Linked DNA regions of Homo sapiens: all the other regions are linked to region 1. Evidence: fine-mapped expression QTL. Tissue or cell type: whole blood. Region 1 holds a variant in brackets; each other region holds the start of a gene. Each region is shown on its reference strand, or each on the opposite one. Region 1 overlaps LPP (LIM domain containing preferred translocation partner in lipoma). Region 2 holds the start of BATF3 (basic leucine zipper ATF-like transcription factor 3). Region 3 holds the start of CYBB (cytochrome b-245 beta chain). Region 4 holds the start of SIGLEC12 (sialic acid binding Ig like lectin 12).

Region 1 (5,017 bases):
TGATTTCATTTTAAGACAAAGCTCTAGAGATAAAGGACATATTCATGATTGCTAGGGGACAGAAATGGGTGGGTCGGGGGGGGGCAAGTACTGGTCATTCCTACAAAGAGGACGCAGCAAGAGTCTTTGTATGGGTGGAACAGATCTGTACCTCAATTGGAGTGATGATTACATGAATCTATACATGGGATAAAGTTACATAGAACTGTATGCACACACAAATCAATGCAGGTTATAAAATGGTAAAAACTGAGTAACTCCTAGTTAACAATAAGGTAACAATGTCAGTTTGCTGGGTTTTCGAATGTATTACAGCTTTATGAGCATTACCATTTAGGGAACCTGGGTAAAATGTACATGGAAACTCTGTACTATTTTTGCAACTTTCTATGAGTCCATATTTAAAAAAAAATTAATAATAGTAAAATAAAGGAATGCATATAGATATCTTAATGTATTCTTCTCTTACTCAAAGTGCTATCTTACATGCCATCTGAATTGCTTGCATGATACTTTGAAAGATCACTGCTATATGTATCCCTGCCAAAATGTATGGCTTAAACCTGTGGTTTTCAAAGCTGGCCAGTCATCAGAAAGACTTGGAGAACATTTTTCAAAAGAAAAAAATTAAAGCAAGTCCTAGGTCCCATCACAATTTTACAGAATCAAAATATCTGGCCATGGGGCCCAGGAATCTGCATTAAAACAAAGCAAAATAAAAAATAAAACAGAACTTCCCGGGAATTGTGATTGATGCTCAACCAACGTTTGGGAACCACTCATTTATTTCATTAACTTCAGGGACCAGTGCCTTAATCTCCTTTGAACCTTCTCCAAGTCCTGAGAGTGTACTCTTCCTCCCGTAGTTAATGATGGTAGCTTTTGAAGTCTTGAGAGTCTTTATCTTGTGAACATTGTACAGATTCAGAGACCTAGAGCATCTTTCATGTTGCTATTCTTTTCCCTCAGTGCTTTCATTATAGACACCAATCGTTTGCATATGTTGTCCTGGGTCATTTTATTTGGGATCCAAAACCAGAAAATTTCAAACAACAACAAAAAAATGGATTCTTCGAGAATGCCCTAGCCATGGACAAGCTTCTGCATTACAGAGCTCTTGCTATTGTGTTGCTTTGGGTAGCAATGCCTGAAATCTCAGCCAATTTTGGGTCACAGTAGGCCTATGTAAATTATCTAAAAATGGATTCATTATGGACATTATAAAAATAAATCTGACACCTGAGCCTTTGGGCAAATATACCATATAAAGAAATCATACCCTAGAATAACGATTAACCTAAAGAACTTAAAAAAAATCAGTATGATATTTTTATCATCCTTTCTTAAAATTACTGCATTCAGAGAGACCTGATGGCTGAGGACAGCACCTGGGGCAGAGGAGTATAGGTCATTGGGATGTGGCATCCTGAGTCTTCTAGCAGTTTGCTCTTCCAGCACTCTCCCTTATTATATGTTCTTTACATTGTTCTGTATGTCGCTGTCTTCAAACAGAATAGATAAGTCTACTAGTCAAGATAGACATATAACAGGCACCACATGTGCATAAAAATTGCATTATGTAAATTTAGTGCCGTAATATAATATGAAGGATGTCCTCTAGGAGGAACTGGGGAAAGCATCACAGACGAGGACACATCTGATCTGAGTGTTGGAGAATGAGTTAGTTGTTTACCAAGCAGAAAAGGGTGGTGGACAGCATGGCATGCCAAGTAAAGGGAACAGCATGTGCAAAAGCAGAGAATGGCCCCCATCCTGACCCTTGTAATTTTGGCAGCTCTTTGCTGATGTCCTCAGGCAATGCATCTGGGCTCCTGGGAATAGCTTTGCAATGTGAACAGAGTGACTTCACTATGGGTAGACCTAAATGTTCTAGCGTGCTCTGAAACTTACCTCTAGAAATAGCTCCAGGAAGTTAGGTAGCTTCAGAGAGGAAGGACCAAGAAATATGATCTTATACCACAGGCAAGAAGTACTTTCCTGGAGGTACTGGCCAGAAGTACTATTGCTATCTCTCTGCACTTGTCTGTTATATTTTAGAATGAAATGTGCCTGTGCATACAAATGCTAAGGCAAGAAAGAAAAAGCAAAAGGCAATTCTCTTTAAATCTCCTGAAATAATTTCAGGCAGCTTTTTTTACCTAGTCAAACACACACGCTTAAGAATGGAGTTGTAAGCTAACTTAATCATTTTTTGTTTTGTTTTGCTCTCTTACTTGTTCACACGTTGGGGTAATCCTGAGAAAACAGGAAGCAATGAAAGAAGGATTTTATTG[T/A]GAAATGTTCATTACAACTTGTAATTTTAAAATGTGTTTGTATGAGTGTGCACAAATGTGAATAAATTTTAGAGCACTTTCTCACATAATATCTAGTTTAATCACCAGAATATCCTGCAACGTTATTATAGTTCCTACATTATTATGGTTCCTAAAGACAAATGAAAAATCTGTGATTCAGAGACCCAAGGTTAGGCTAATAAATGTAGAAGTCACATTTGACCAAATTTTAGTATCTTCCCTTAAGTATTGGTAATGTACGATAAACACTATTTGGTAATAATGAATTATTACAATTACTAAAACAACTTATCTGGCAGAACAGTATCTTAACTATTTGAAAAATATTGTAGTGGATTTATTAGCTTCCATTTCATCTGAAGTCCACTTTGCTTTACTGCTTACTTTATCTTTCTAGCTACTCTGTAAAAAAGTTATTATCACCCTCAATCTGCCAAGTATAATGTATGTAAAGTGAAATAACTAGCATATTGCAAAGCTGGGAATTGAACCCTTGTCTCCTAAATCCAAGTCTGTAGCTGTTCCTCAGCAGTACACTGTATCTCATGTTAATGCCATTATTACTTGTATTAAATGAAATAATTTTTCCATCATTATTTTCCCGAATTATTACTATCCAGAGCGATTTGAAGGTTAAGGTCATCCAAATAATGTGTGAAAATTGCTTAAAATCAATCTCCTGTGCATGGATGTCTATGATGTATACAAATATAAAACAGCCAAAGTAGTCTCAAGAAGTTATTACCAAGTTTCTCAAATAGTGTCTCAAGGCGACATTATTTGACAAGACCTTTGGAATAACCATTTGGAATTTTCCTTAGTTCAGTTGAATTGTGTCATCTTGCTTAAACTTTTCAGATATCAGGGGTAGTTTTATTGACATTACAATGGAATTAAAATGACATTTTATTTTATTTTTTACCGTTCTATAGAAATGGCATTTTAATTCGTCATTATTTTTATTATTGATCTGTTAATGTTGTAATGACTTGGGTTTTAGTAAGGGCATCCTCTGTAAAAATTACCTCCTGGGAAAGAAATCTCCAAGTTCTATGAGGTCTCCCAGAAATATCACCACTTGAGGTGAGAGTAAAGTGTCATGAATGCCACCCAATGTGATTCCTGGTAGATAAGATTTCACTGTTTTATATCTTGACATCTGCATTAAATTCCGTTCTTTTACTGGGTCCTATTCACTTCCATCTTGTGCCATTGTTACTTAACCAGGCTCTGTAGTGGACAGGAAAAAGTAAAAACACGTCTTAGCCCTTAAACAGTTTATATTTTCATTAGAAATTCAACATATGAAAATGCCCAGTTAACTAACAATATAAAGCTTTACTGTACAGCTTCTATTTGTGAAGTGACTCCATGGCTAACTCTATCAGAAGAAAGAGTTTGCTTGGAGCCAAGGTAGTATTGGAAGGTTACAGAGAAGAAAGACTCAGGGAGGCAGTGGTTAAGCTTGTAGACTCTGGCATCAGATAGATCTGGGTTTCGAGTTTTGATTTTACCTCTTAATTCTCTGGAAACTTGGACTCACCAGGATAAGTGGCAACCTAAGTTCTTTCAGTTTTAAAATAGAGATAGTTATGCACTAGGCGTGGTGGCTCACGCCTGTAATCCCAGCACTTTGGGAGGCCAAGGGTGGATCACCTGAGATCAGGAGTTCAAGACCAGTCTGGCCAACATGGCAAAACCCCGACTTTACTAAAAATACAAAAATTAGCCGGGCGTGGTGGCACACACCTGTAATCCCAGCTACTTGGGAGACTGAGGCAGGCGAATCACTTGAACACAGAAGGTGGAGGTTGCTGTAAGCCACTGCATTCCATTCCAGCCTAGGCGTCAGAGTAAGACTCCATCTCAAATAAATGAATAAATAAAAATAATAAATAAATATATGAATAAATGAAATAGAGATATTTGTATCTTAAAGAGTTGTTTTCAAAGTTAAGTCATGACAAAATAATGACAAAATCAGTGGAAGCTGCAATCATTGTTCTTGCTATTATTATTGAAATGAAAATATGAACATTAGCTCTGAGGGTTCTATCCATAGTTTTTTTTAAAAAATTCTGATTATAAAATTTTAATTATAAAATCCCATATAGCTCATGCTGACCATTTAAAAAATAATCTTAGTTGTATCCTTGTTTCTTTTTGTATTTGCTAATAGAGATTTTAGAATTGGCTTGGTGTATGTTTGTCCTTGCTAGAATTATGATTCCTTTTTTGAATTTGCATTACACCTTTGTTAGAAGTAGAATTACTTTACTTGAACTTTGTCAATGTGGCAAAAAATGATTCATGTTTATATTATCTCTTTGAAAAGTAGTGTTTTTACTATTGAACTATAAGTACAGTTAAAATGTAAATGAACATTTCAGAAAGAAACTATTGATTTTTATTAATTAAAGAAATTAATTTTCCAAAATGTCAGTTGCTACAGAGAGATTTTAGGGATTATTAACTACACAATCTCAGAAAAATTAATTTAATTAGGGATTTTATTTTGGGTTCCATTCGTTTTTGAGATTCATATTTTGGATTAAGCCAGTCTCCTGAAATTGTATTTAAACTTAGTCTGCGTGTATGTCTTTTTTAGGGAAAGCATTCACAACACCATCAGACCCTCGAAGAGATTCTTAACTTACCCATTAAGAAAAGTAACATCTCTGTCTAGGGGTCACCAGTCTCTC
Region 2 (5,017 bases), not on the chromosome of region 1:
AGTCCTTATACCACCACACATGAAAGGTACTTTTGATACTGCATGCAAATCATGATTACACTTACAACTAATTGCAGCCACATAACTCTACCAACACACCAAATGATCTTAAACCCCACTGACAGTGTACTCATTTGAACAATGCTTGGCTGACATTTTGTTTCAGAAGTCAGCAAATTTTTTATGTGTCTTGAAAGCTGTTAGCTATATGTAAGATTTAACCAAATTCAGTCAAATCCCTCAATAGTGATCATGAAACAGGCAGGCGGAAAAATGCACTGACCATGGTAAAAACACTTCAATCAGCTATAGAAAACATGAAAAAGGAGAGCAGTATTTGCTTTCTAGAACCCCATGAGAAGACACCACCAAGCGGGAAAAATACCACACTTACAGAGTTTAAGAGCCAAGAGGTACAAACAAGGAAAACTACTCAGTTATTAATATTCACGGAATGCAAATATTAATAACACAAAAAAGGATATTTTCAGTTATCATTTGATCTCATCTTGTATTCCACATAAGACACACATCTTCCCAAGTTACTGCAGGTAAGAAGTTTCAGATATGCAAGAATATAAAGGCATAAAAAGGAGAGGAATAAATAACATACATAGCAAATAGAAGCTTAAGGGAACAAAGTATGATAATACAGTCTTCTAGAGAGGCAAAGAAGTCTTGATAAACAAAACCAGAACATTACAGGGGAACATGTGGTTAGAAGACAGCTCTTTAGCTTTAGAATCACACAGATCCTAGTTTTGTCTCTTAGTGTCAACATGGTCTTGTGTAAATGGTTTAAATTCTCTAAATTTTCAGTTTTCTCATTTATTGTAAGCATAATTCATTCATTCTTTCAATATGTATTAACTGAGCACCTACCATGTGCCAGACACTGTTCTAGACACTGGGGATACAAGCCCTAAACAAAGGGTCAGTGAACTCTGCAGACTTGGTGCTAACAGCCTAATGCTTAGGATTGGGATGCGATGAAATGAGATTTTGTCCTAAAGCTCCCAGCATACAGTATGCCCTCAAGAAGTTACCTGCCTTTGTTGAAGTTGCTACTTTAAAAAAAAATGTATTCTGCATAGTGCTTCTCATGCCTCTTTGCTCTCTGTAATCAAAAAGTCACTAGCACAAGAAAGCAGCCTGCATACTGCCCTCGGGGAGCTGACTCTAAACTGGACTCATCACCATGATCACACCTGCCAACCCAGCAGAAACATTTAATCAAGACAGAAAGAGGTGAGCGAAAGTTAGAGATAGTATTATGTTATTAACCATATCTGATTCAGTCTCAAAAATCCTGAGAGGTTGATGTTACTATATTCATTTTACAGATGGGGAAATGGACGGTCCGAGAGGTTAAACAAATTGCTCAAGGCTGCTCAGCCTGTGTGTGGCAAAGCCCAGGCCCAAACTCAGATCTCTGTGACACTCCAGCGACACCTGATGACATGGGCCGGGCGCTGAATTGGGAAGGTGGGGAGTAAGGATGAAAAGACCCAGTCTTCGTCGTAAGGCAGGTGGCCAAGACCCAGGCAAAGTTTCCAGACGGCCGTCCCTGTGGCCAACCTGGTCTCCTTCCTGACTGCGCCGCTGTAAACGTTGCTAGGGGACAGCGAACTGGGAAGGGGCAAAGGGTTTCCACCAGCTGGGGGCGGAGTCGGCCCTTTGTGGGTTCCCTCCGCCCAGGCTGACTAGTCCGGCGTTCTCCATTCCCGCGGCAGCACCCCCCCCACCCGGGGGAATCCTGGAGGGGCTACAGGCGCGGGTGGTGGGGTGGCAGTCGCTGGCTGCGCCAGGATGGGGCGGCCCTCAGGGCAGTGCGGAGCCCACGTGCCGGGGAGCACCGGCCATGCCCGGCCCAGCCAGGCGTCGGCGCCCTCGGGCTTCTTCCCCCAGAGGGCGCAGGAGCTGGCTCAGGAGCCATTCCAGGAGCCGCGGACACTGTGCGCACGACAGGGTCCCTGGATCGCCCCCATTCCCCAACATCCCTACGCCCCTACCTCTGCTTGTCTCCGGCCGCACCCGCCACCTCTGCACCTCCGCAGTCACCACCACGGAACTCCAGCACCCACCTCCTCGCCCCCCGCGGCGCGCCGGTCCCCGCACCCCACGGCCCTCCCTGAGCCTCTCGCCCTCTACCTGCTGCTGCGGCTGCGGCTGCGGCTGGTTCCCGGGCGCCGCGACGCTCCTCTGCAGGACGCTGCCGGCGGCCGGGAGCCCTTGCGACATGCCGGGCGCTCCTCTGGCCCGGCCCGCCCCGCCCCGCCCGCGCGCCCTGCCCGTGGGGCTGCCTACGGGCGCTGTCCCGCCGCCGGCATCCTCGTGCCGCACCCACGGCCTCGCGCCGGCCCCGCCCCCTCAGGCTTCCCGCTCTCCCCGCTACTCCACGCGTCGGCCCAGTGTCCCCGCGCGCCAGTCCCGGCAGCCGTCCTTCCCGTCCCACGTCTGCCCCGCCCTCCTTCTCCCACCCCCGCCTCGTTTCCTCCTCTGCCCGCCCTCTCTCCGCACCTCGGGGTCCCAAATCCCACCCCTGCCGCGGCTTTCCGCCGGCGCCCCGCGCTTCGTGGAAGTCACGTGGTGGCTCTGAAACCCCGGAGGGAACGCGAAGCCCACCCACGCGAGGCGACGCCCGGGGGGGTGGGGACCAGGGGGGCGCCATGCAGCCTTTGGGGTCCTTCGGCGGCTGCCGGGGAACTCAGGTTGAGAAACACAGTGGGTGTTTTGGGGTCGGTGTTTTTTCCCGGTCCCATCGCGGCATCTTCCTGCGCCTCAGCCACGCCCTGCGTCCGCCCCCCGGCGCGGGGGTCACAGTCCCGGGGGACTTTCTCCGCGGCGATCAGTCATCCGGGCGCCACTCTCGCTCCTCCAGCGGCCCCGAAGCCGCGGCTCTGGGGTGAAGACGCCGGCTTCACCGAGTCCCACCGCGCACCCCGAGCCACGGGCGCCCCAGGGACTCTGCAGGGAGTGCCTGCCCTTCCCGTCTCGGGTCCGCCGGGCTGTGGGAGGGAACGAGGCGGGGCGGCCCCGAGGGTGAATTCCCGGAGCGGAGGGTGGGCATGGGGAGGATGTCCCGGACAAAAACGGTGACGGGCTTCCCTGAGAGCGAATCTGCCACGTGGGACGTCACTAGTGACAGGTTTGGGGATCTGGACCCGCCATGCCACGGTTAAACGGCCCAGATCATTTTTCTTTTTCAAGATTTATCTGCTCGTGCCAAGCTGGGGACCGGGTTGAGGTAGGGCAAGTCCCTGTCCACCTGCCTGCCAGTCAAAAGATGCGAAGCCAAGACAATTACCCGTGGTCCTAGCGAAGGAAACACTAGCGGCCACAGGCTGTGGTCTGCATGCTGTGAGCACCGGGAAAGATAACCGCGATTCGGGATGGGCGGGTGGGAACCAGACCAGAAGGGCAGAAGTGCCTACCAAGTGTGGTCGCTTGGGTCTTCAGGTTTGTGGGCAGCAGTGGGCATGGGGACAGTCATTTCCGATTCCTTTTTAAGTCTTAAATGAGTGCACGTGCCCCCCGCCAGGATTTAAGACCCACTCTTGCAAAAGCTTTGAGAGAGCTTGAGTGAACTTGGCTGCCTGGAGGCCAGCGGGAAAGCGAGCGGAGATTCTTGTCTGTGTGATCAGAAGCTTCGGCCAACTGAGAGGCGGGGAGGAAGACGGAGGGTGGACGCAGCCCTTTAGAGTTGCAGCGCCACACTCCACAGCAGCAAGGCTGCGCAGCAGAGCCAGCGCTACGCTGGGTTATCTGCCCGGATTAATCTTTTCCTCTCCGTTATTTCATCACTCAGCTTAACTGGTGGTTGCCCCAGGACTATTTTGCATCCCACAAGGTACCCACACAAGGTGCCTAGCATAGCACGCTACATACACTCAACAGGTGCTCAGTATATGTATTGCACTAGGTCAGCTGAAAGCTCTCATTCCTGAAGCACTAAAAGGGCTCTAACGAGCTAGGAAAACATCTGGGTCAAGGGGTTATCATTTTCAGAAGTGATTTCATTCCCCAGTGTTTTTTATGCACAGAAAAGGCAAGGTAGAAACACCTCGGGAACATTCCCGTGCACTCCTACACTTTATTCTGGTCATGCCCACTTTTCTCACTGAACCACATCACATTTTAAGTCCTTTGGGGCTGCTGCTTCCCTGTCTCTCCCCAGGGAGCCTGAAACCATGTCCCAGCACACACGAACTCTTTATATAGGCATAGTCTACTGTCTTGTGTTACGCAAGGGTTTCTTCAAATACATTTAGTCTTGGTTAACTAGGTAGCATTTAGGGCAGAGATCAATTTGATGTAAAGATCATACATCAAAATGAATGGATTAAATAGCTAGATACAGAAATGAAAATCAGAGAGCTAAAGCAGAATTAAATTCTTATTTAAGTCATGGAAGCATAGGCAACATAGTGAGACCCCCAACTCTACCAAAAATTAAAAGAAATCAACTAGCTGAGTGTGGTGGTGCACACCTGTAGTCCCAGCTACTCAGGACGCTGAGGCAGGAGGATCACTTAAGCTCAGGAGTTTGAGGCTGCAATGAGCTATGATTGCACCACTGCACTCCAGCCTCCAGGGCAACAGAGCAAGACCTTATCTCAAATAAATAAAATAAAGTTGTGGAGATAAGATAAGGAAAGGATCTTATAAGAATACATGTAATAGGAGAAATTGACTTGATAAGATCTGAACTATATAAAAGGGCTAAATTGTTTTAGATGACAGTATAACCAGGAATGTAAAACAAACAGATTGGATAAATACAGTGCATATGAGAAAGGGTTAATATACAGCCCACGAAAAAGAAGAAGAAGAATATTGAGACAACCCGCAAAGGTAAATTGCAGAAGGGATATGAAATGGCATTTCCCAGCAGAAGAAATAATCAAGGAAAATAGGTATAGGAAAATATATATTAAAATAAGAACCCTTTTTAAGTTAGCAAAATAAAAAGTAATATCAAATGCTGGGGAGAGTATGGTGAAATTGGTACTCACAT
Region 3 (5,017 bases), not on the chromosome of region 1:
CTTGGCCAAGTAACTGAACTGCTCTGGAACTCAGTTTCCTTATCTGTAAATATAATCATAATAATAGAATCTGCTTTACAGTGGTTGAGTTGTGAGGATCAAATGAATTGATGTGTGTGTGTTTGCATGTGTGTCTATATGTGTAATACACACATATATGCAGTCATATCACTTAACTATGGGGGATTTGTTCTGAGAAATGTATCCTTAGGTGATTTTGTTGTTGTGTGAAAATCATAGAGTGTATTTACATAAACCTGATGGTATAGTCTACTACACGCCTAGGCTACATGGTATAGCCTATGGCTGCTAGGCTACAAACCTTATCGTTTTTTATTGTACTGAATACTGTCAGAGATTCTAACACAATGGTATCTAACCATAGTTAACCATAGAAAATAGACAATAAAAATAAAGTATAAAAGATTAAAAATGGTACACCTGTATAAGGCACTTACCATGAGTAGAGCTTGGAGAACTAGAAGTTACTCTATGTGTCAGTGAGTGAGTGGTGAATGGATAGGAAGGCCTAGAACATTTTTGTACACTCCTATAGATTTTATGAACACTGTACACTTAGGCTATACTAAATATGCAAAACATTTTGTTTTTTCAATAATGAAATAAATTTAGCTTACTGTAACTTTTTATTTATAAACTTTTGCTTTTTTAATTTCTTGACTCTTTTGTAATAACCCTAAGCTTAAAACAAAAAAAATTTTACAGCTGTACAAAAATGTTTTAATATCCATATCTAGAAGCTTTATTCTGTTTTTAAATTTTTTATTTTTATATTTTACCTTTAAAACATTTTTGTTAAAAGCTAAGACACAAACATACACATTAGCCTAGGCCCACACAAAGTCAGGATCATTAATATCACTGTCTTCCACCTCCACATTTTGCCCCACTGGACAGTCTTCAAGGGCACTAACATGCATGAAGCTGTCATCTATGACAGCAATGCATTCTTCTGGAATACCTTCTGAAGGACCTGCCTGAGATTCTTTTACAGTTAACTTTTTTATAAGTAGGAGTATACTCTAAAATAATGATTAAAAGTATAGTCTAGTAAATAAATGAACCAGTAACATAGTCATCTATTTTTACTATCAAGTACTATGTAATGTACATAATTGTATGTGCTATACTTTTACAACTGGCAGCTCAGTAGGTTTGTTTACACCAGCATTGCCACAAACACATGAGTAATGTGTTATGCTACAATGTCACTAGATGGTAGGAATTTTTCAGCACACACACACAAGTATATATATTATATATTATATTATATATTATATATATATGTATATATATATATATATATATAGAGAGAGAGAGAGAGAGAGAGAGAGAGAGAGATGGAGTCTTGCTCTGTCGCCCAGGCTGGGGTGCAATGACACAATCTCGGCTCACTGCAACCTGACTCCCAGGTTCAAGTGATTCTCCTGCCTCAGCCTCCTGAGTAGCTGGGACTACAGGTGCCCACCACCATGCCCAGCTAATTTTTGTATTTTTAGTAGAGACGGGGTTTCACCATGTTGGCCAGATTGGTCCCAAACTCCTGACCTCAAGTGATCCACCCCACTCAGCCTCTCAAAGTGCTGGGATTACAGGCGTGAGCCACCGTGCCTGGCCAACACCATTATAATCTTATGGGACCACTGTCATACATGTGGTTCATCATTGGCCAAAGCATCTGTATTTATATATGTATGTTTCAAATTATATATATATATATATATATATATATATATATATATATGATAGCTATACATGAACATACACACACACATATATAGACATATATAGCACATAAAATTGGCACATATTAAGCATTTTGTAAATATCAACCATTACAATTGTTACTACTTTTCTCAGCAAGGCTATGAATGCTGTTCCAGCCTGTCAAAATCACACCTGTTTAATGTGTTTTACCCAGCACGAAGTCATGTCTAGTTGAGTGGCTTAAAAATTGTGATCAAATAGCTGGTTAGTTAAAAAGTTATTTCACTGTGTAAAATACATCCCTTAAAATGCACTGTTATTTATCTCTTAGTTGTAGAAATTGGTTTCATTTTCCACTATGTTTAATTGTGACTGGATCATTATAGACCCTTTTTTTGTAGTTGTTGAGGTTTAAAGATTTAAGTTTGTTATGGATGCAAGCTTTTCAGTTGACCAATGATTATTAGCCAATTTCTGATAAAAGAAAAGGAAACCGATTGCCCCAGGGCTGCTGTTTTCATTTCCTCATTGGAAGAAGAAGCATAGTATAGAAGAAAGGCAAACACAACACATTCAACCTCTGCCACCATGGGGAACTGGGCTGTGAATGAGGGGCTCTCCATTTTTGTCATTGTAAGTACCAACAAGAGATAAGTTATAAATTCTCTGACTTCTCGGGGTTATCTTGGAACTAAAATAGACCAAAGCTTTTTTGTTCATTTGAGGAATTGTGTTGAAACTGATTTACCATGTGAACCTATATCTATCTGTAAACAGACTGAGTCCATTCTTCCAAATTCCTTAATGGAAAGAACATATCTGGGGGCTCACTTCTAGCTTACTTCTGAATTCCTAGGAGGAATAAATTAGCCAGCATTTCGCAGAAGGAGTAGAAAATATTTCATGCTAATGATCTCTGATTCTGAGTTGTTTAGTAATGTTTACTCAGACGCACATGTCTATGTGTTTATACTACTTTAAAAATGACAAATTGAAATTTTATACCATTTTCTAAATAAAAAATATAAGATTGACTCATGTATGGGAAGTAGGCCTTTATTTCAGTAATTACACTAAATATAATAAAACTTCTCAAATTTATTTTCAAAAACAAGTACCTTCTTTTTTCAGAGATCTAAACTTGAGTTATTTATAAGATTTATAAAAATTCAAAAGAACAGAATTGAAATAAGTCATCTAGATTCATAAATATGTAGTATGTATATTTATATATAATTGTATATATATATAAATCAATATAGTCTGGAGAAACTATGTAAGTAAAGATATAGCTAATTTACAAGTGGACAGAATGATTTCTGTACTTTTTAAAACAAAGAAAATCAACTGTTCTCTTAAAATGGTGTTATCAGCAAAGCAATAATGGACAAATTGGGTAGATAGAAATACGATTTTTAAATAGCCTTTCTAAATAACCAATAGAAGCATTACACAGATGTTAAAAAGTACAATTATGAATGGAATATGAATGGAGCTTTTGTAAAAATTTATCATGAAAAATAATGAGTCTTTGAGTTTTAAATATAGAAAGCAATTAGTGGCACAAATAAAAACAACAAATATTTTGTTATAAAAAATGTTTACGCCAAACCAACATTCTACTGCAACAGAGAATTCTTCCGAGTATTCGAAGCTGTAAACTTAACTTCTTATCACCATTTTTAAGGGCAAATAATTTCTATAGAAAGTAAGTTCAAATTAAACTTTTAGCTCTCGCCACAATTTTTCCCAGGAAATGACCTCCTTCTAAATTATATACTCATGCACTTGAAAGTGAAAACACAGCTTGGAAAGTCAGAGTAAAGAAAGAATGACAAGATCAGGAAATTGGGAAGTTGCTTTAGCACTTTTTTCTTTGTAAAGAGAGAATATTATCAAGTGTCTAGAGCATATAATAGCTTCAAAGCATAGTTGAGAAAAGATCACTATGGAGCTGAAGGTAGAGAACTGGGTAGTGTGACCACTTGATCCAGTCAGTGCTTAGGATAAAATGAACTGTCATGATCTAGAAAGCTGTTTTTGTTGTAAATCCCAAGCCCCTCACTATGCTCAATATTCTCTCCTTGAAGCATTAAGTAAAACTAATCAAGGAAAATGGAAGGCTTGGCATTTTAGCTGATGAGAATTCACTAGCTGGATTACTGTGTGGTAGAGGGAGGTGATTAGCACCTGTGAGAACAGAACGCAGTGTCATACTGGTGGAGGGAAAGCAATAGTAATATGTTCCCTTCCTTTCTCATTTTAAGTGGAGTGGCCTGCTATCAGCTACCTATCCAAGGTTAAGCAAAAGAGAGGGGAAAAAAAGGGAGTGGGGTAATGTAAGACTGATAATTTGGTATACTGGCCAAATCATAAAACAATCATGGGGAACAACACAGGGTGGAGAGGTTTTAATTATAGACAAGTGTAGTGACACTGTTGAGGAAAGAGCTGGCTCTAAGCTGGTTATATCCAGCTTTGTCACTACCTTTGTCAAAGTTGGACTTGGGGAAGTCCTGACCCTTATCTGACTCCAGTCTTGTGTGGAATCTACTGTGGAAATGCGGAAACTTCATGCAATTATTTCTGTTTGTGCAGCTGGTTTGGCTGGGGTTGAACGTCTTCCTCTTTGTCTGGTATTACCGGGTTTATGATATTCCACCTAAGTTCTTTTACACAAGAAAACTTCTTGGGGTAAGTATAAATTCCATCCCATGCAATATTGGCTGGTTCACATTTCTCATCAGACATTCTTGTTCATCTTCCTGTTAGCATTTTAAATACATATTCTGACCAACCCAAACAGTACCATTAGCCTCACTCCCTCCATTGCAACTTCCTGGGCAACAGTCACTTAAAGCCTTCCAGTCTGGGACCAACAAAAGTGGGGCAGAGGGCCCCAGTGGCATCCTTCCCCAACCAAGAACCATGTGCCATTGTTTAGCTTAAAGGAGAAATCTAATACTCACTCTGAAATGGAAGGGCAGGTTGGAGCAATCCATCCAGGAGTGACACATGTGGGACAAGTGGGACTTTCCATATTTTCTAAGTCACCTAATTCCTAGTACTTTTTTGCATGAAGAGCTCTGCTCCTAATCACATGTTATGAAATGATCTTCAGAAAATAAATCTCTCTCTACATATAAAGACTCGAGGAACTTGCTCAAGGGCCACATCTGTTGACTAGGACAGTAGAGTGAAGGCCCTTCAGTTTCCTTGGGTCCTTTAGTATTCTGAGTTTCCTTGAACTGTCAGGCCTCTTGCCTCCAGAAGACATCTGTTACATCAT
Region 4 (4,000 bases), not on the chromosome of region 1:
CTGAGCATCGAGGAGCGAGTGATAGTGGGGTCCAGGGAGGACACGGAGGCCCCCATCCAGGTGATCGTGGGGGGCGTCCCCTGTTCACAGGCCCAGGGCACAGAGCAGGTCAGGTTCCTGGGGTGGCCAGACTCCAGGGTCCCCGGGATGGAGAAGGTGGGCATGTGAGTCAGGGCTGGTGATGAAAGGGAGACAGGCAAAATGAGGGTGTTGGGGTCTGAAGTGTGGTGCTGAGGAGGCTCAGGCTCTGGTCTTACTCCTCCCCTGAGCCAGATATGCTTCACCTCCAACTCCCTCCCAGGATGGGGGTCCCACCTCAGCCCTACCCTGCGGCCCTCGGGCCTTCCCCTCTGGCTGGTCCTAGAGCCAGAGATTTACCTGTCACATGCACAGAGAGCTTGTCATATATGTAGTTCCATTTCCTGCTTCCTCTCTCCACCTGGAAGTAGTACTTCCCTGAATCCCCCTTCCTGGCATCTCTGATGCTCAGGGAGCAGTTGTTGGTCTGTGGGTCCCCAAGGAGGAGGAATCGACCGTGGGTATCCTCTTGCACTTTTCCACTTGGGGTGTTTGTGGCCACTGGAATATCCCATGGTATATCGGCCCCTTCCTTGAACCAGGATCCATAAACAGGGCTAGAGGCAGTCCAGTTGTAATGGGGGTAAAGGACACTGCAGGGCACAGAGACACACAGACCCTCCTGCACAGTCACCGACTCTGGCACCTCCAGCCTGTATCTTGACAGTAGGTCCTGGGACGCTGTGGAGAAACGAGGGTCAGCCCAGCCCCCACTGTCCCTCTCTTCATTTGCCCATAGCAGGGGCAGCAGCATCTCTGAGGCAGAGGCTTCCTGGGCTCCCTGTGTGAGCAGAGAAGGGGGAGGGAGAGGAGGGGCAGGGCTGTGGGACCCACAGGGGGCTGGAGAGGAGCTGGAGACCTCAGCCCTGCATGGAAGAGAAACTGCAAACCCACATGCTATAGGAACTCATTCCCTCTGCACAGAGTGAAGGAAACCCTAAAGCTCAGAGACCCTAGAGACCCACCCAGGGAGGAGAAGAGACCGTGTCCCGCCTCCTACCTCCGGGCTTCCCTGAAGCACCAGGGCCTGCACCAGACACGTAGGTCCTGCCCTCCCGGCCTCTGGACCATCGTGGAGGTCCCTCCTGTCTTTTGAGCATCTAAATGTGGATCTCCGAGGACCTCGGGGCATGAGAGATGGAGGGGCCGTGTGCTGAGTCTCCCTGTCCAGGCTCAGGTGCCTCTGCTGCCCTTGGTTTGCGCCAGGAAGTGCTTCCTCCCTGGCCTGGCCTGAGAGAGTCACGGGGTTGTGTAGACCTAAGGCTCTCAACTGGGGAGGACTTAACCCCCCAGGACGTTTGACAATGTGTGGAGATAATTGTCTCGCTGCATGGGTGGGGTGGGTGCTTCTGGCATCTGGTGGGGAGAGGCCTGGGATGGTGCTAAACCCCGGCCATGCCTAGGACAGGCCCCAAAACAAGGAGTCATAAGGCCCCACATGCCACAGTGCCAGCGTCAGAGGCAGGATGAGGATGTCAGGCCTGTGGGTCAGGGCTGGTGAGGGGAGGGGCTTGCAGGATCAGGAGGGGCATCCAAGGTGCGGTCCTGGGGAAGCTCAGGCTCTGGTCCAGCTCCTCCCCTGAGTCCATCACCCCCGGCCCCCTCCCAGGACATGTGTCCCGTCTCAGCCGTGCCCTAAAGCCCTCATCACATTTGCCTTTGGCCTCTCTTGGAGCCCGTGCCTTACCTGTCACATTCACAGAGAGCTGGTCATATTTATAATTCCATTTCATATTTCCTCTCTCTACACAAAAGACGTATGTCCCTGCATCACTCTCTCTGGTGTCTCTGATGCTCAGGGTACAATCCTTGTTCTGTGGGTCCCCAAGGAGGTGGAATCGGTCCCGAGTCTCCTCCTGCACTGCTCGAGCTGGGTTGTTTGTGGCCACTGGAATGTTCCGGCTTACATGGTCCCCTGCCCGGAACCAGTAGCCATGAACTGGATCGGAGGCAGTCCAGCCATTTTGGGGGTAGGAGAAGGAGCAAAGCACAGAGACACACAGGCCCTCCTGCACCGTCACGGACTTCTGCATTGTCAGCAGGTAATCCTTCTGTTCCTTAGCCCCCACTCTCCCACAGAGCAGGGGTGGCAGCAGTAGCAGCAGCAGTAGCATGTGTCGGGTTGGAGGTGCCAGGGTTGCTGAGGTAAGTCTGTTCCTCAGGGTTCTTCTCTCAGGAACTGAGAACTCAAGATTTCGAGGAAGCCGCACAGGAAGTTGGGGGTGGGTTCTGAACGGTGACCTCACAGGAGGAACTTCACACACAGACACTGTCAGGGCCGGGTCACCCCTGGAAGATCCACCGTCCACTACCCCGTCCACTCCTGGGGACCCTGAGGCCAGAGAGGATGAAAGACTCACCCAGATTCCAACCCCATGCAGGGCCCACCCCGCCCACTGCCTCCCTCTCAGTGCCCTTCCCCTTGGGTGATATTTTCCATAAGGTGAAAATGAGTCCCATGTGGCCAGACCTATGAAGTACAGGCTGTGGATGTCTCTCTGTAGGTCAGAGGTGACACTAGGATATAAGAGATGGGGGTGCAGGTGGGATGAGCAGGCAACCTCTCCTTCCTCCCTCAGCGGCCGTGAGGTGGAGTTCAACACAGCAGAGCTAGACACTGTCCCCAAAGAGTCACTGTGTAGTGGGGAGACACTGAGGCTCCTGATATCTGAGCTCTCCATGGCAGGAGCTTCAGTGGGGGTACCAGGCAGGGTGTGGTCGCTCTCTCCTATGTTGGGGAATCAGTCTCGGGAGGACTGAGCAGAGAGACACGGGGTCGTGGAGGTGAGGATTCCGTGTGTTGATACACACCAAAGACACAGAGAAGAGCCCAGTTCACAGGAGGCCTGAGAAGCTAAGGCTGTGACTGTTGTACAGTGAGGTCTGGAAGGGAGGAATGTTGGATGGGAAGGGACAGATTTCTAAAGGGGCAGGCGTTTCTCTCTCGGCCATGGCTCTCTGGGTTCAGGATGGGATCCTTCACCACTGCTCTCTCACAAGTCCTCCTTACTCCAGAGCATGAGGGGTCTGCTGGCCCTTTGTTCCTGCAGGCTCTGCTCCCAGGGTTTCAGGTGAACAGGAGACGTGGAGCGAGGACACCAGCCCTGGCGTGTCCACGCTCAATGATGGACAGGATTTCATGGGAGAAGAAATGCACCTGAATTCAGCAGAAGAGTTTTTGAAACTGTATGCTATGTACTGGGAGGAAGGTGGGGAAAATCCTGCAAGATTCGCCCTCCTTAGACCCATGTCAGCTTTTCTTGAAACAATGATTTTTGGGGAAATGTAATACAAGTAAATAAAAGTGCCACCTAAAAAAATGACTCAGTGATTTTCACCAAATTATCACTGTTCAAGAAATAGAACATCACAAGATAATTGCCAAATTTCTCCCATGAGATGAAGAAAGAAATTGCATTCATTTATTCAGCCCTGTGTTTCCCCTTCCTATAGGCCACATGCAGTTCCTCCTGAAGATGCCCCAGCCTCACTTTAATGATAATGGTCTCCTTGCTTTTCTATGTAGTTTTATCATCTGAGTGCACTGCCTTCAATACTATGGCTTTGCATAGGTTTTTCTAAAGACTATTTTTACATAAAAACCACAATCTGTTTTATTTTACTCAGCTCCATGGATCTTCCCATCCCCATGTTGTCCCCAATTGCCCATAACCTGGAGTAGAGTCAGTTGGCTGTGATAATTGAAAAGGAAATGTGCAGGATTGGGGCATGCATAGCTGCTCCTCTCCCTGACACCACTAATTCCTGCATTTGCAGCTTGTATCTCATCCTGCAGACCAATCTGCTCCTGGGCCCCCATCCTTGCCGTGTCACTTTCTTCCCGTAAGGACAGTTGCAGCATCTCAATGGGAAGAAGGGCTCGACCACGGCCCATCTCTTTCCCACAGTCCCCAGTTGGCAA

The links.
Region 2: it holds the start of BATF3, and the variant in region 1 is fine-mapped to the expression of BATF3 in whole blood (TOPMed, PIP above 0.99).
Region 3: CYBB starts here. The variant in region 1 is fine-mapped to the expression of CYBB in whole blood (TOPMed, PIP above 0.99).
Region 4: SIGLEC12 starts here. The variant in region 1 is fine-mapped to the expression of SIGLEC12 in whole blood (TOPMed, PIP 0.97).

The regions. Positions count from the first base shown.
Region 1 is chr3:188,415,701-188,420,717 of GRCh38, forward strand. All of the region lies in intron 4 of LPP (LIM domain containing preferred translocation partner in lipoma), which reads left to right. Among named protein-coding and RNA genes, the nearest start is that of LPP-AS1, 150 kb to the right of the region's middle. The variant T/A (reference allele first, on the strand shown) is at 2,295.
Region 2 is chr1:212,697,522-212,702,538 of GRCh38, forward strand. It overlaps BATF3 (basic leucine zipper ATF-like transcription factor 3), which reads right to left and starts at 2,319. Exons shown (of 3, transcript NM_018664.3): 1 at 2,152-2,319. The coding sequence starts at 2,241. RefSeq lists silencers at 1,617-2,066, 2,257-2,336.
Region 3 is chrX:37,777,762-37,782,778 of GRCh38, forward strand. CYBB (cytochrome b-245 beta chain) reads left to right here and starts at 2,298. Exons shown (of 13, transcript NM_000397.4): 1 at 2,298-2,361; 2 at 4,327-4,422. The coding sequence starts at 2,317. RefSeq lists an enhancer at 2,340-2,389.
Region 4 is chr19:51,499,542-51,503,541 of GRCh38, forward strand. It overlaps SIGLEC12 (sialic acid binding Ig like lectin 12), which reads right to left and starts at 2,259. Exons shown (of 8, transcript NM_053003.4): 1 at 1,766-2,259; 2 at 379-759; 3 at 1-175. The coding sequence starts at 2,192. RefSeq lists an enhancer at 22-521.